4 separate regions of the Homo sapiens genome follow, and all the other regions are reported to be linked to region 1. Evidence: microRNA targets listed by miRTarBase, many of them from high-throughput screens and not tested one by one. Region 1 holds a microRNA gene; each other region holds the end of a gene's coding sequence.
The links. The annotated mature microRNA hsa-miR-6738-5p reads CGAGGGGUAGAAGAGCACAGGGG and lies in region 1 at 1,954-1,976, opposite strand. An mRNA with a match to its seed (bases 2 to 7 or 8) in the 3' UTR can be bound and repressed. Matches are read on the target gene's strand: a 7mer-m8 pairs with bases 2 to 8, a 7mer-A1 pairs with bases 2 to 7 and ends in A, and an 8mer does both.

Region 1 (3,885 bases):
CGGATCATGAGGTCAAGAGATTGAGACCAGACTGGGCAACATGGTGAAACCCTATCTCTTCTAAAAATACAAAAATTAGCTGGGCGTGGAGGCATGTGCCTGTAGTCCCAGCTACTCGGGAGTCTGAGGCAGGAGAATCACTTGGACCTGGGAGGCGGAGGTTGCAGTAAGCGGAGATCTCACTACTGTACTCCAGCCTGGCGACAGAGTGAGAATTCCATCTCAAAAAAAAAAAAAATTTAGCCAGGCGTGGTGGCTCATGCCTGTAATCCCGACACTCTGGGAGGCCAAGACAGGTGGATCGCGAGGTCAGCCGTTCAAGACCAACCTGGCCAACATAGTGAAACCCCATTTCTACTAAAAATACAAAAATTAGCTGGGCGTGGCGGTGGGCGCCTGTAATCCTAGCTACTTGGGAGGCTGAGGCAGGAGAATCGCTTGAACCTGGAAGGCAGAGGTTGCAGTGAGCCAAGATCACGCCACTGCACTCCAGCCCAGGCAACAGTGCAAGACTCCATCTCAAAAAATAATAATGAAATAAATTAATTAAATAAAATAAAAAAATAAATAAATGAATTTTTTTTTGTAGAGAAGGTGGGTCTCACTATGTTGCCCAGGCTGGCCTCAAAATTCTGAGCTCAAGCGATCCTCCTGCCTTGGCCTCCCAAAGTGTTAGGATTACAGGCCTGAGCCGCCATGCCTTTTTAAAAAAGAATCTGTTTTTACTTCTAAAGGTTGGGAATCACCAACCAGTTGGAGGAGAGAGGCCCCTCCTGCTTCCTAGACTTCCACCACCCATTCATCATCAGACAAAACAGGAAGTCCCTCCCTAGAGTTACTACAAGCCTCACAGGTCAGTTAGGGCCCATTTGGAAGCCACAGCCCAATGGCCTGTACCCAGGCTGCACTCTACCTCTGGTCCATGTCTCCGCCAGGGTCTCACCTCGTGGACTGTGGGGCGGAGACAGACGGCTGCTACCTTCCTCCTCGCTGCCAGTGTCAGGGTCACTGCTGTCTTGCAGCCGCTCTTCGGGGCTCCCCAGTTCCTGCCTCTCTCGGTCCTCAAAGTTTCGATGGACAGAGCGAGTAGTGACAGGTAGATCCAGGCGGTCAGTGCCTCGGCTGGGCTGTGGACAGTGGGCAGGAAGAACAGCAGGTCAGGGACTGAGTAGTGTGAAGATTGGAGGTTCTGCTTGGCTGAAGGCAGCAGCTCTCCCCCCTGGGGCTCACCCATGAGTCCCCTTCAGGAGATCCACCACCAACTGGCCTCTTTCAGCACCACGACCCGAGTTAATTTCCTCCACCCCTGCACCCATCTACATTTCTTTTCAGTTCTCCAACCAGTATCTCAATATCCTTCAAGTCAGTTGACTGATTGCATTTGGGCTCAAATCCCCAATGGCCCAATTTCTTTCGGGCTCCATGGACCCTTATGTCCACCCCAGGTCCATTCACCACTGCAGGCCACCTTACCTGTGGGGGGTTGAAACTCAAGTACAGGGCATCGCCTGCGGGGAGGCTGCGCCGCCGAGGATCCACAGGTCTGCGGGCCCAGGGGGCCTCAGCTGGGAGTGGCTCGGTCTGGCCCAGGGCGGCCAGCTGCCTTCGAGCCTCTTCGGCCTCACGCTCCAGCAGTGCCCGGGCCTGCTCACTCTCCCGGAGCCGGGCCTCCAGGCTGCCAGCTTCGGTTGCCCGTTCTTCACCTAGCCGCCGGCAGCGCCGTAGCTCCTCCTGCAGCAGCGCATGTTGCCGCTGCAGTAATGCCAGTTCCGTGGCCTGCTTTTCAGGGGCCACAGGGGCAGCCCCAGCCCTGCCAGCCTCCCCATCCCGAGAGTTGGCTCGGCACAGCTTCTCCCGCCGCTCAGGGCCCTCAGGGAACCGGGCTTCCATCAGAGTGTCCTGCTGGGCCACAGCTGCCTGGGAGTAGAATGCAGGCAGAAGGGTTTATCAGAACCCCTGTGCTCTTCTACCCCTCGCCTTCACCCTCCAAGGCCCAGATCATCGCTCCTGGAGAGCTTGGATTGGGAGGGTATTTAGAAAGGCCTGTTGGGATGACCATGCCCCACCTAAACAGGCATCTCTAGCCTGGCTCCTCCCCTTCCCCATTCAAGCCCTTGTCCTACTGACCTGTAGGCCATGTAGAAGTCCATAGAGATTGACCAATCGCTGTAACGCCTCCTGAGGACAGACAGGGTGGGAACAGGGCCCCAGCTTTAGGATGGGAGAACTGCCCAAAAGTTGAACAAGGGTGGGTGTGGGGACAGTAGGATCCGGAGACATACTTGAATGTAGACGCTTTCCCCACCCCACTCCAAACTGGGCTCTAACTACTCAGACTAAGAACATCCTCCCTTCAGTCTCCTATACCATCAATTCCCATCTCACCTCTTGCGGTGATCTCAGCTGATTTCCATTTCGATCCTGCAGAAATGGGCAAGAATGGGGAGTCAGCAGGCACACAAATCCTGGGTGCCTGCCCCTGACAGCTTTGTGTTGAGGATCCAGAGGCTGGCTGTCCCTCTCCCACCCTCTTGCCAAGTCCCAGAACCTCTTGAGGACCTACCCTCTGGCTAGAGTCTGAGTCAGCTCTGCAGAGTTCAATGGAGCCATTGAAGGTTCTGGCCTCACCATCTGTTGAGAAGGAGAAAAGGATGGCTGAGCTCACTTCCCTGGGGCCCTGATACCACTTGATCCCTGGTACCACTCTACTAACTTTGGCCCCTCCCACCTACTACCTTGGTCCCCTGCCCTGGTACTCACTGGCAGTGACCCCAGGACTCGTGTTACCACCGCTGTCTGGTTCCAAGGGCAGGGCTGGCTCTCGGGGTGTCAAGAGCAGTTCCACTCCTGGCCCCACCAGCAGGTCTTTCAGACCCTCCACTGTGGGGAAAGAGGAAGAGGTGAGAACAGGAATGACACAGGACCCTGAGGGGAATGCCATTCACCCCCACATGTGGGACACTTGGGCATCTGGGGGAATGCCCCCTGCACTGGCAGTGGGGTTTCACTCACACAACCACTGATGAGGTAAAGGGCAGTAAATGCCTACGAGGCAGCAGAGTCCATGCAGCATGGACGATATGGAGCAGCAGCAAGGACCACACCTCCTCCCCTGCCTTTCCCAGGAACTGGCCCAGAAGAGGCACTCAGGGCCGTTTATGGTTTATAGGGTTGGCATCCCACTTGTCTGTGTTTGTCCATGTCTAGTCACATGTCCACATTCTGTGACGGTGAGTGCTTGAGCCTGGACTCTTCCCTGGGAGCTCCCTCACCCTCACGGATGGCATCCTGCAGCAGCCGCTCGCCACGAGGGGACTCAAGGGACTCAGAGCGGAAAAGGCCCCTGGGCAGGGTGGGCAGGGCCATCCCACTGCCACCATCCTCTTCGGCCTGGAAATGGGTCATCTCAGCAAACAGCCCGACCTTCTCTCGCAGCAGCTCCACCAGTGCCCGGTCCTTCTGCTGCAACTCCACTGCAGATAAGGAACAAGTGAGGACATGAGAGGACGTAGGGGTATGCAAGAGCGCCAGTAGAGGACAGCCCTAGGGGAGAGGGGTAGGGTGGGGCAGTGTGGCAGACTTAATTTTGTTATTTTGGCATTTATAAAAAAGAAAAAGCTTTCTGTTGGTCAGGTGTAGTGGCTCACACCTGTAATCCCAGCACTTTGGGAGGCCAAGGCAGGTGGATCGCTTGAGGCCAGGAGTTCAAGACCAGCCTGGCTAACATGGCAAAACCCTGTCTCTACTTAAAATACAAAAATTAGCCAGGTGTGGTGGCACGCGCCTGTAGTCCCAGCTACTCAGGAGGCTGAGGCACAAGAATCGCTTGAACCCAGGAGGCAGAGGTTGCAGTGAGGCCGAGATCACACCACTGCACTCCAGCCT
Region 2 (3,885 bases), not on the chromosome of region 1:
GCCACGCCCCTCCTAGCCCAAGCCCCTGCTCCGGCCTTGACCCCGCCCTCGGACCCGCCTTCCGGGTTTCTGGCCCCGTCTCTGACCCGGCCCTGGCCCCGCCCTCTGGGTTTCTGGCCCCGCCCTGCCCCTGGGCTCCGCCTCTGCCGGTGACTCGCGAGTGCCGCCTGCAGGTAAACTTTGTGAGCTACGTGCAACTGACGTCGCGGGCGCTGCCCAGCCTGACGGACAGCAAGGGCTCCCTGGTGGTGGTGTCCTCGCTGCTCGGTGCGTGCACCCGGCCCCGGCTCTGCGGGACGGGGAGTGGGGAGCTCGATGCGGGTGAGCCTGGAGGGTCTGGGCAGGCTTCCCGGACGAGGGGGAGCCACTCAGCCGCTGCCGTCCGCGCCCCCAGGCCGCGTGCCCACGTCGTTCTCCACTCCCTACTCGGCGGCCAAGTTTGCGCTGGACGGCTTCTTCGGCTCCCTGCGGCGGGAGCTGGACGTGCAGGACGTGAACGTGGCCATCACCATGTGCGTCCTGGGCCTCCGAGATCGCGCCTCCGCCGCCGAGGCAGTCAGGTGAGGCCCGGACAAGCTGGGGGCTGGGCTGGGGGCCATGGCCCAGCCCCAGCCGCAGTCCCCACCGTGCCCTCCTGTCCCCAGGGGAGTCACGAGGGTCAAGGCGGCCCCGGGGCCCAAGGCAGCCCTGGCCGTGATCCGCGGCGGCGCCACGCGCGCGGCCGGCGTCTTCTACCCGTGGCGTTTCCGCCTGCTGTGCTTGCTCCGGCGCTGGCTACCGCGCCCGCGGGCCTGGTTTATCCGCCAGGAGCTCAACGTCACGGCCGCGGCAGCCTGAGCACCGGGGGGTGCCCCTCCAGTCCCAGACGGCAATGTTCCTCCCTCCAACTGTCCCTGGAGCCAGAACACTCACAGAGACACCCCTGAGAGGGTGGCCACAGCCCAAGATGAAGTCATCAAGACAGAAAAGCAAAACCGAGAAAAACGACGGGCACCTGGAACCAGTCACGGCTTGGGAGGTGCAGGTGCCCCGTGTTAGGCGCCTTTGTCGGGGACTTGCAAGGCCTCACCTGTTTGGCCATGATTGATGACGTGACTGCTTCCATTTTGCAGATGAGGAAACTAAGGCTCAGAGAGGCCACGCCACCCTTGAGCCACCCATGGACCCCTCTCCATCTCCTGCCTGCGCCTTTAAGTCCCTGATTTATTCTTTCCATTCATTCCATCTGGGAGGAACCCCCCCAACTCCTGCCAGCTTCCCCTAGCTGGGGTCTCTGGTACTCTTCACACCTGCAGGGGCGTCTACACTGTTCGTCTACCTGGTGGCAGGGTCTGAGCGGGAGGAGGAGGGAAAGAGTGTGTTCTGAGCTGGACCCAGCCTCTTGTTCGAGAATAAAAACTCTTCTTCTCTTGCATATCTGTTGTTCAAATTCCTTGGTAATTCCAATTTGCTAGCAGCCAGCGGGCAGCGGGAGGGGGTGTGTGTATCAGGGGCCTTGACTCTCAATCCCATTTCACAGGTGGGGAAATGGAGGCTGAGAGGGCCAGGAGCAGTGGCTCACGCCTATAATCCCAGCACTTTGAGAGGTCAAGGTGGGCAGATCACTTGAGGTCAGGAGTTTGAGACCAGCCTGGCCAACATGGTGAAACCCTGTCTTTATTTATTTATTTATTAGACGGAGTCTCACTCTATCGCCCAGGCTGGAGTGCAGTGGTGCGATCTAGGCTCACTGCAACCTCTGCCTCCGGGGTTCAAGCGATTCTTGTGCCTCAGCCTCCCAAATAGTTCAGATTACAGGTGTGGGTCACAACGCCTGACTTTTTGTATTTTTAGTAGAGACGGGGTTTTACCATGTCGGCCAGGCTGGTCTCGAACTCCTAGCCTTAGGTGATCCCCCTGTCTCGGCCTCTCAAAGTGCTGGGATTACAGGTGTCAGCCACTGCACCCGGCCACAAACAAATATTTTAATTAAAAAATTAGCCAGGCGTGGTGGCATGTGCCTGTGGTCCCAGCTAAGGAGGCTAAGGCAGGAGGATCACTTGAGCCCTGGAAGTCAAGGCTACAATAAGCTATGATTACAGCAGTGCACTCTAGCCTGGGCGACAGAGCAAGACCCTGTCTGGAAAAAACATGAAAGCGCTAACCCTAATTAGAGCAGCCCTAAATTGAGACTCTCTTCTTGTATATTAGTAGCATTAAAGGAGAAAAACTGGAAACTTGTGTGTTTCTGCCACCCGATTCAGTTATTTAGCGTCCCGTCCCTACACCACCTAAATTACATCAGATGTCCGCAAGGGGCACTATTACACGTTGCTGTATTCAGACCTAGTCTAGAGCTTGACCAATTGATAACAAAACCAATACCTTTTTTTTTAAATGGAGTTTCGCTCTGTCGCCCAGGCTGGAGTGCAGTGGTGCGATCTCGGCTCACTGCAACCTCTGCCTCTTGGGCTCAAGCAATTCTCCTGCCTCAGCCTCCTGCGTAGCTGGGATTACAGGAGCATGCCACCACGCCTGGCTATTTATTTATTTATTTATTTATTTATTTATTTATTGAGACGGAGTCTTGCTCTGTCGCCCAGGCTGGAGTGCAGTGGCACGATCTCGGCTCACTGCAAGCTCTGCCTCCTGGGTTCACGCCATTCTCCTGCCTCGGCCTCCCGAGTAGCTGGGACTACAGGTGCCCACCACCACGCCTGGCTAATTTTTTGTATTTTTAGTAGAGACGGGGTTTCACCGTATTAGGCTGGTCTCGAGCTCCTGACCTCGTGATCCACATGCCTCGACCTCCCAAAGTGCTGAGATTACAGGCGTGAGCCACCGCGCCCGGCCTAATGGGCGTTTTAACAGTTCATACAGTTTGGTATTATTATTCCCGCTCTACAAGTGAAGAAATTCTGAGAGGTGATGTCGTCGATGCAGGGTCGGCCCGAAATAGGCGGAGTTGGGATTCGAACTCATTTCACAGGCAGAGGGAGGAGAGCAGCCATAGCCACCTCCACTGGTTCCGACTCCAGCTCCCGGGCTCGCAGGAGTAAACGCGCATGCTCAGGGAGCTCGGTCGCGCATGCTCAGCGCAACGGCGGGGAAGACTCCAGCCGCCAGGGGGAGCGCGTGCCGTTCTTGCCTCTCTGGCCTGCGCCTCCTGAGCCGAGTAGATATCCCGGAGTTCCGCGCGGCGCCAGCCCTTCCGCCACGGCCGTCTCTGGAGAGCAGCAGGTAAGTGGTTTCCCGCACTGCCGGTATCCGCCGCCATCCGGACTCCCGGGTCCTCTGTGCAGGTTGGAGGATGGTTGGTTGTGGCGAGCGAGGCTGAAGGAGCCGGGACGCGGGGCTCTGGGCCTCGGGAACTGAGCCGGTACTCACCTCCGCCCCTTCTCCCCGTCGCTGTCCGCAGCCATGGCCCTACGCTACCCTATGGCCGTGGGCCTCAACAAGGGCCACAAAGTGACCAAGAACGTGAGCAAGCCCAGGCACAGCCGACGCCGCGGGGTGAGTGCGGGTGCCGCGCGGAGGTTGTCGGGGGTTTCTTGGAGGGCGGAGGGCATGGCTTGGGCAAAGGCTCTCGACCTGAAAGAACGCGCGTTCGGGCGCAGAACTAAGGGGGGCTTGAATGGAAGAGATGGGGTGGGGGAGTGGGACTTCCTGCCTGGTGCTCGAAGGCGGGCACCCATCTGGGTTTTTCCCAACCGTGCAATCCACGCTGGGGCAGAGGGAGCACCTTGAGAGCGGCGCGGGGCAGCGGGTTTGGGGTTCTGACGCAGGAGTAGGAGTTCGCTCATGGAGCTGGCCCGAGGTTGCGGTGTGTGAGGTTGAGGGATTTCAGGTGTGTCAGTGTATTGGGCGCCTTTATTAAGCGGGCAGCGGGTTTGGGGTTCTGACGCA
Region 3 (3,885 bases), not on the chromosome of region 1:
TAGCCGTCCTGCCTGGCAGGGGTGCACTGACCTCCGGTTCCGGCTTGGTGGCTTAGCCCCTGTATAGGGGACTTGAAAAAAGCAGCTGGGTCCTAACCAGACCCCAGAGTAACCCTCTTCTTCCTCCACTCCAGCCCTCACCAGCCCTTTGCAGCTCCTTGCGACCCAAGCGAGTTCATCCGCGCCGGTGGTGGTCACCCGGGTGTGCGAGGTGGGGCCCAAGGAGCCAGCAGCAGCCGTCGCGGCCACGGCCACCACCACCCCAGCCACTGCCACCACCGCCTCTGCCTCCGCCTCTTCCACTGGAGAGCCCGAGGTCAAAAGGTCCCGGGTGGAGGAGCCCAGTGGTGCTGTAACCACACCGGCTGGAGTGATCGCAGCTGCCGGCCCCCAGGGGCCAGGCACCGGGGAGTGAGGTCACCTGCAACGCGGGGGAGTGGGACTCACCCAGCGGCGACCCCGAAGCTGGACCCGGCAGCTCAGGCGGCCGCACCCACAGACGGAGGAGAACAGCCCGCGGCGGCCTGTGGGCATCGGCGGCACCTGGACACACCCAGCCCTTTCCATTTGATCGCCTGCCTTCCCGTGGTTTAAGACAAAAACACATAAACAAGTTCAGACAACTGATTGTATGATTCTGGGAATTCTTTGCTTTCCTTTCCTTCTCCCTCGGCACCACCTCCTCTCCCCAGGCCTCCCTGTCGGGCATGGGGAGGAGGTTGGAGCTCAGCATCTTGAGGAATGTGTCAAGACAGCCCCTCCGCTCCGCGCTGCACGGCCAGCCGCCTTTGTCCGGGAGGACAGACAGAAACGCAGCAAGGCACACACCAAGGCTGCCGGGGAGGCCCGGGCACCGGACAGATGCCTGTTGGGAAGCCAGGAGCTGCCGAGCCACGGACCACCTAACAGCCTCTCCGCCCGGAACGTGACATAGAGAGTGTTGGCATTAACTCGGGGGGTGTCCGATTTCACTTCAGACCCCAAGTTTTTCTTTGTTTGTTTAAACATGGAATTCAGACTTCATTGTACACCTGAGACAGACACAAAAGGGATCATGTATTTTTGAGGATTTTACCTGTTGACGTCTGATGACCGGCCGTAGGTCCAGGGTTCCCGCTGGGTTTAATCCCCTCGAAGAGTAAACCTGCCGCTCTGTCTGATAACTTCAAGTAAGAGCAGCGGCTTCCTGGGTTGGCGTTCGCGGTGGAAGGTTCCTAGGATGAAAGGTGAGCCTGGATCCGCCGGCCGCAGACATCGCGCTGCTGGGGACGATTGGGGCCGCTGCTCTGCAGACCAGACCTTCCCGAATTATCCGTGGCTCCGATGTCCCGGTGCTGACGGCCACATGGGGACCTAACAGTGCCAAACGCCATCTGCTCCAGCTGCTTTTTCACCCAGTTGCAGAGTCCTCACCACTCCCACATTGATCTGCTGTTTTCAATTGGAACCATTTCTCCTGCCTGAAACTCCAGGGCCCCTCCCTGGGCTGTCCGTGAGCAGGAGACCCCACCCCAGCAGCAGTGGTGAGCAGGCCTGTGCCTCCACGCCCAGCCCCCGCCAACGCGACTGGTTTTGTTTGCCACACGGTGAGAACCGGAGGACGGGATGCTCCAGCCAGTTGGGTGGTTCTGGGGTCCCTGAGGAAGCCCCCTCCTGCACTTCCATTAAGACAGCCAGTGGTTCCTGGATCTTTGTCACCAAGCAGCGTTGAGCCAGAGCTGTCTAATGCTGAGCCCAGCTCAGGAAGGAGAGAGGAGTCCTTCAGTGTGTCTTGGAGATGCGAAGTGCGTCCTCGTAAAGGTCAGCTGTCAGTTTTGCTGGCCGCTCCGGCGCTGGCTCTCCTGTCCGGGACCACAACGAGAAACAGCGACAGATTCGACGCAGAGCTCCGGAAGTGCCTGAGGAGCAGTGGTTCTTGGAAATCGCCCGTCCTCCGCATCACAGCCTCTCACCAGCAAAGCAGCCTCTGCCCAGGCCCTGGCGGGAGAGCTGCAGAGGGACCCAGGTGCCTGGAGGGCATTTGAGGGAGGTGGCTGGACAGGTGTCTCCCTGAAGAAGAAGGGAGAACACTTTTCAAAGTGATTCCGAGGCAGTGCGGGAGGACACACGTGCTGTGCAGTGGAGTGGGGTCGCCCGTGGCCCCCATCAGAGTCCCCGTCCCCCAGGACAAGTGCAGAACCTCTGTGGGCCCCCTCCTTCCACCTAGATAGAGAAAACCCCTTGTTCGGTTTCCTTCCCGTGTCCCGTTGTTTTTCTAAGCCCCCCGAATTGAGTCGTTTCTATGGCACTAACCTTTCCATGGGAAATAAGCTCTTTGTGGAAGTCCGTACCTGTTGCCCTGGGTGAGGTTTCAGAGAAACGGGGGCAGGATGAACACAGCCGGCTGTCCTGGGTGCAGTTACGTCCGTGGAGGGTGAGAGATTGCGCCCCGTTCCACACTTGTGTCGCCTGCTGTTGTCTGTGGGCCTTTTCTTTCCGTGGTGCCTGGTGTGTGCGTGCATGGCGTGAGAGAACGGGGGGTGGGGGTTGGAGGTGGCTCCCCGACACCGGTGCCTGTGTGGCCTGAGCCGGCGCCCTCCCGGGAGCGCCCGTCACGGGGGGCCTCTGTGATTACCTGCTGCTGCTCTCTCCCGCGTGGTGACTATATGTCCTCAGGGCTGCCTGTGGCCACCCTGATGGGAGACCTCTGTTTGCTTCTGGGCCACTGCAGGTTGGCCTCCTCAATACAAGCTGATGTCTGCAGGGAGCGCCGCGTGCTGGGATTGCACCACGTGTTGGTCACAAATCGAGGTCGCCTTTTGGCCTGGTCTGCTCAGGCTGGCCCTGACCCACGTGGTTTCCTGGCTTCTGAGACGCAGCGCATTCTTCCTGTTAGCGGTAGCGTTCTCTGATTTCACTGCTTCATTGCCAAGGGCGTGGAAAGGGGGTGGTGGATGGAGCCGGGAGGTGGCGAGCACAGGACCCCGGGGCTGCATTCTGCCGTGTGGGGTTCTGCACTGTCTAGCTTCTGCGGGGACTGCAAAGAGGGATGAAGGGACGTGGTCCTAGGGGTCGGCTCAGACTCGGAGCAGGGCAGGGAGAGGAGGGCAAGGAGAGGAGGCCTGGGTCCTGGATCCACTGCTCTGGGCTCATAACCATGAGATTTTGAAAGAGTTTTTGGTCATCTGAGCAGGTACCATGCCTGGCTCATGCCGGAACTTGTCTTGGAACCGGTAGCCAGAGGCCCAGGAAGGGACAGGGCCCAAAAGGGTTGCATGTCCCGGCCACAAAGCCCTCCCTGTGTGCCCTGAGCCAGCCCAGCAAGCGCCTCCCAGCCAGGCGCTTTCGCAGAAGCAAGAGCACAGGCCAGGGGGACCGGGAGAGCCTCAGCCCCCAGCCTGGGCGGCCTGTGACCCTGAGCCGTGTGGAGCCAGGACCCAAGAACCTTCTCTAGGTTCTCAAGGGTGAGCTGACCCGGGCAATGTGCAGGAATGTGGGGAGCAAAAGTAGCTGATTCCAGCCCCGTTCTGGGGTCACTGGGGAGGCAGAGGCTGAGGGCCTGTTCTCTGGTCACCAGGGACTGGGGGCACGGTCCACAGCGGATGAGAACAGCAGGTCACAGTAGTGGCTTTGGGAAGGGCCCCTCCTGCTTTGCCCTGTTCGGAAAGGGGCTCCCTCAGAGCCCCTGGGCCCAGTAACCCGCTTCTGTCTCCTGACTCCTGCTGGATAAATTGCCAGGTTTATCAAATACAAGAAAACACCTGCTTTGGCTAGGAGGTAAGTCCCAAAAAGAACGTCTTAAGTAGAGCAAAGGCATCCACCGAGGCCATTTGGTGGCCCCTGGGAAGTGGGGAAGCAGGGCCTGAGCGTCCCCAGGCTGCTAGGGCAGCAGCTGGCTCAGGGCAC
Region 4 (3,885 bases), not on the chromosome of region 1:
GCATAATTTTGCTAACAAAATATCATGAAGTGTAATTATTAAATATCTCTATCAATTACTGCAATCCTGGTGCCCCAGTTGAGCTGGGCAAAATTTCTAAAATATAAACACATTATTAAAATCACAACAAAACAAAGAAAACTACCCTTATAAATCTCTGTAGTTTCGTGTTGTCAAAAAATCATATGTATATTGCTGAGAGGCCCTTAAAAAGAATAGGCCGTAATATTATGAAATAATTATCCAAATGCACCCTCTAGTGGCTAAAAAGCAATTCACATATGAGCTAAGCAAAACTGTGTTTAAAATGAGGAGCATTGAGTAACATTTAACTGAAATTTTTCTAAATGAAAATAAAAATTGTGGCTTTAATTTCTCCACAGCTCTATTTAATAATATAGTCATTTGAAAAAAATCAACGTACCTCAATACTAAAAAATACTTACCATGTAAAATACATACACATTCAATGAAAATAAATACCCAAGTGTTCTGATGATTCTTTGTTATCTGTGTTTTCTAATATTTTTTCATCTCCAGAGCTTCTACTCATGGTTAAATGTTCACCTCTAACCTAAGGAAAAAAATCAAACATGTCTAATCTGAAATTTCACTAAATTCCTTTTTAATTTTAAATGTGGTCTAAAATATTATTCATCACAAATAACTTTGCCATTAAACTGTATAGCTCTTAACTAGAAACGTCCATGTTTCCTATTAACCTTGACATCACAAATGTTTGTGACTGCTAAATAGTCTATGAAGATAATGCCTTAAAAAACTTGTAACAAAAACATTTCTAATACTTTGATGTCAGAAAACACTTCAATAAAATGGTAATACATTTTAAAAAGCTGATGGCATAAGAATACAGCCAATGAAAAGCTACTTTTTATTTGTAAAAATCTGTTATTTTTGACTTCAAATATTTTATTTATATTTCATTAGGTTCCTATCTTTCTATGTATGGCTAAAAGACATCAGTGAATACGAACTAGCATTTTTATGCTTCATGTCTTTATTGAATAGGTTCAAATATGAAGACATTATTGGTGAAAAAACAAAAAACAAATAGTGGACAAGAAATAATAGTCACCACAATCATCTTTTTCAACCTAACACAATTCAGAATAATACATAAGCAATTTTTACATTTTTAATCTTACAATCATCTTTTATTCTACCATACTGTCAAATACTTGTGAAAATAAATAAAAATAAAATACATGATGCATAGGAAGATTTTTTTTAAAACTGAACTATTGCACAAATCAATGTGAGAATATGCAAGTAATATAAAAATGCATTTAAATATATTGTCACAACATATTTCGTAAGTCATAAATCTATTTCACCTACTGTTTATAATCTCTGGGCTCTGGAACTAGATGATTTCTTACCAACTCATCTCCATGTGGTACATTATAACATTAATTTACTACTGTAAAATTCAGTGAGAAACAAATGTGTGCCAATTATTTATCTATCCTTTCCTTGAGCAGACAAAAAGAATTATGTGGTCTTAAAAAAATACTTGACAAAAAAACAGTGCTCAGTATTAGATAAAACAAGTTTAAAGTTCTTTATATGATTTATAACAGAAGTGATTTAAATGGAAATCTAATATATGCATTCATCTTCTAAATTCATTACAGCTTATTTTAGTTGATGGACTATTTGTTTCTTTGTTTTGACCAATAAGACTGAATAAAGATAACTGAGGGGAAAAAAATTAACAACTAATCAGGAAATAAACTGTAAGTAAAATGACAATTCCTATTAAGTTTGTAACTCCTGCCCAAACTAAACTAAGCTAATAAATTTCAGATAAATTATAAGCCACAATTCTTTACATTGTGTCTTATAGTTGATCAGAATCATAAACAAAAAAAAAAGCTAGGAATTATATAAGAGATTTGTTTGTACCTTTACAGTAAGATCAAAGCTCTCTTAGGTTTGATTGAATAGAAATTACTACAGAATTACTGCCATCAAGGCAATCTACTACTAACTACTATGATATACTGAAAGTGACAATGATTAAGAGCTGTGTCGTGATCAGGTTAAAGAGAAAAAAATAATTAAATTTGTGTGTATGTTTAATTAGGTAAGTCAATTATGCATTAAAACAATACATTTTCAGTGGGTCCTTAATGTGACGTGAATGGTGTTTCAACATTAAATGCTAAAGATGAAAAAAAGAGTAGGAAAATTAGATATTCTCTTAACCTACTCATAACTACATGTACTTCCAAGAAAAAAAAATTCAAATATTTTTTATCTGCATGCTCTGCACTAATGATTAGTTACCACAACTATTATGATTAGGTGACGTGATTTAAGATGCATTAAAATGATTTATTCTAAATTCAGATACAAAAAATTATATGTTTTTAAACATGTAAGATTTTGCAGGGAATTCTGTGCCTTCTATATTAAATAATTACATTTTCAAATACAGCAAAAAATGAACTAGCAAATTAAAACTATCTTCACGGGTTATGGAAAAAGAGGAAAAGTGAAATCTGGAAAAACAATTGGAAGTAAAAAAATATGTTCAACGAATACATACAGAACTAAAAAAAATCAGTTATAAATAGAACAAGATAGATTTGTATTTTTAGTCTTGTGTATTTGAAAAGGAAATTGCATAATTACACTTTTACAAAACAAGTAAGATGTTTAAATTACGTAACTAATAGAGGGGTTTTTTTTTCTCTTAGTTTTTCGGATTTATGAAATAATTTGTTGACATGCTCTACAGGAGTGACCTTAACATACCTAATGGTAACTAAAACTGTTCTCTTTAATTACAAAATTCCCAGCATCTATCCTACTATGATACTATCTGAAGATAGGCACCAATAATACAAATGTTTATCCAAATTTTTTGCTCAAAGTTATACTTATCCTAAAGCTTGAAGGGCTAAGCACTAGAGTATGAGAGTTTGTGGAAATGTACTTAACGTGCTTTAACAACAACAGAAAAGTAACACCTAAATTAATTGTTCCATTTGAAATTATTTTCTGACAGATAAGTGAATATTTCCTTGAATGACACAGTCTGGGGTATCAGATATTTATTATATACAGTATATGTACACATATAAACATACACACATTATATAGCCAAAAGATTACACTTCAAAATTAACTGGAAATGGTATTTCGAGTATTTTTAGCACAAACTAACTAGAGGATGTGCTCTAGCTGTCCAAGCAGCAATAATCATAAACTCTGAACTTGGCTTTTTTTTTTTTTTGAGATTCTATTCATAGAATCATTCTTCGAATGCCACATTCACAGCAAAATTTGGCCCATTCTACAGGGTATTTAGTCCCACACTCATGGCAGAATTTTGGTAAGTTTCCAGGTGAATGTCCTTCAATGCCTTTAATATTTCCACCATTAAGGGAAGATGCACAGTCCCCATCTGGCCTAAAAAAGTAAAGAAACAATGAAAAGATAAAGTTTGTATCAGTAGTTTTCAACCCATAACCCTGGAGAAACAGGACATAAATATAACAATTAGCCTGCTTAATCTCGTTTTTAATATTCCTCTAGTTCAAATTTTAAAAAATCCTTGTTAGTAAATACTAAAATTCTAACATTTTTTTTTAACATTATATTTATCTGTGTTACGAGAATTTACCATGACCAAATGCAGCCATGCTTTCTGTGTTAGTCTGTTCTCACATTGCTATAAAGAACTACCTGAGACTGGGTAATTTATAAAGAAAAGAGGTTTAACTGACTCACAGTTCTGCAGGCTGTACAGAAAGCTTGGTTGGGGAGGCCTCAGGAAACTTATTCATAGCAGAAGGCAAAGGGGAAGCAAGCATGTCTTACATGGTGGGAGCAGGAGGAAAAAAGAGAAGGGGCAGG

Region 2: the mRNA of HSD11B1L is a reported target of hsa-miR-6738-5p. Seed matches in the 3' UTR shown: 7mer-m8 at 1,164-1,170.
Region 3: miRTarBase lists FOXK1 as a target of hsa-miR-6738-5p. The part of its 3' UTR that is shown has no 7-base or 8-base seed match.
Region 4: miRTarBase lists ZC2HC1A as a target of hsa-miR-6738-5p. Seed matches in the 3' UTR shown: 7mer-m8 at 2,702-2,708 and 7mer-A1 at 1,719-1,725.

Annotation. Positions count from the first base shown.
Region 1 is chr1:155,949,356-155,953,240 of GRCh38, forward strand. It overlaps MIR6738 (microRNA 6738), which reads right to left and starts at 1,981; the gene lies at 1,918-1,981. ARHGEF2 (Rho/Rac guanine nucleotide exchange factor 2) reads right to left here. Exons shown (of 22, transcript NM_001162383.2): 15 at 3,273-3,473; 16 at 2,761-2,880; 17 at 2,564-2,631; 18 at 2,386-2,421; 19 at 2,128-2,178; 20 at 1,474-1,917; 21 at 944-1,127.
Region 2 is chr19:5,687,109-5,690,993 of GRCh38, forward strand. It overlaps HSD11B1L (hydroxysteroid 11-beta dehydrogenase 1 like), which reads left to right. Exons shown (of 8, transcript NM_198706.3): 6 at 174-267; 7 at 395-560; 8 at 645-1,414. The coding sequence ends at 837. RPL36 (ribosomal protein L36) reads left to right here and starts at 3,187. Exons shown (of 4, transcript NM_033643.3): 1 at 3,187-3,219; 2 at 3,398-3,492. The coding sequence starts at 3,400. RefSeq lists silencers at 1-130, 371-430 and enhancers at 608-1,107, 2,859-2,908, 2,964-3,489, 3,490-3,885.
Region 3 is chr7:4,762,050-4,765,934 of GRCh38, forward strand. FOXK1 (forkhead box K1) reads left to right here. Exons shown (of 9, transcript NM_001037165.2): 9 at 135-3,885. The coding sequence ends at 415. Among named protein-coding and RNA genes, the nearest start is that of AP5Z1, 12 kb to the right of the region's middle.
Region 4 is chr8:78,716,881-78,720,765 of GRCh38, reverse strand. ZC2HC1A (zinc finger C2HC-type containing 1A) reads right to left here. Exons shown (of 9, transcript NM_016010.3): 9 at 1,001-3,438. The coding sequence ends at 3,273. It also overlaps a transcript of IL7 not described here. Among named protein-coding and RNA genes, the nearest start is that of ZC2HC1A, 53 kb to the right of the region's middle.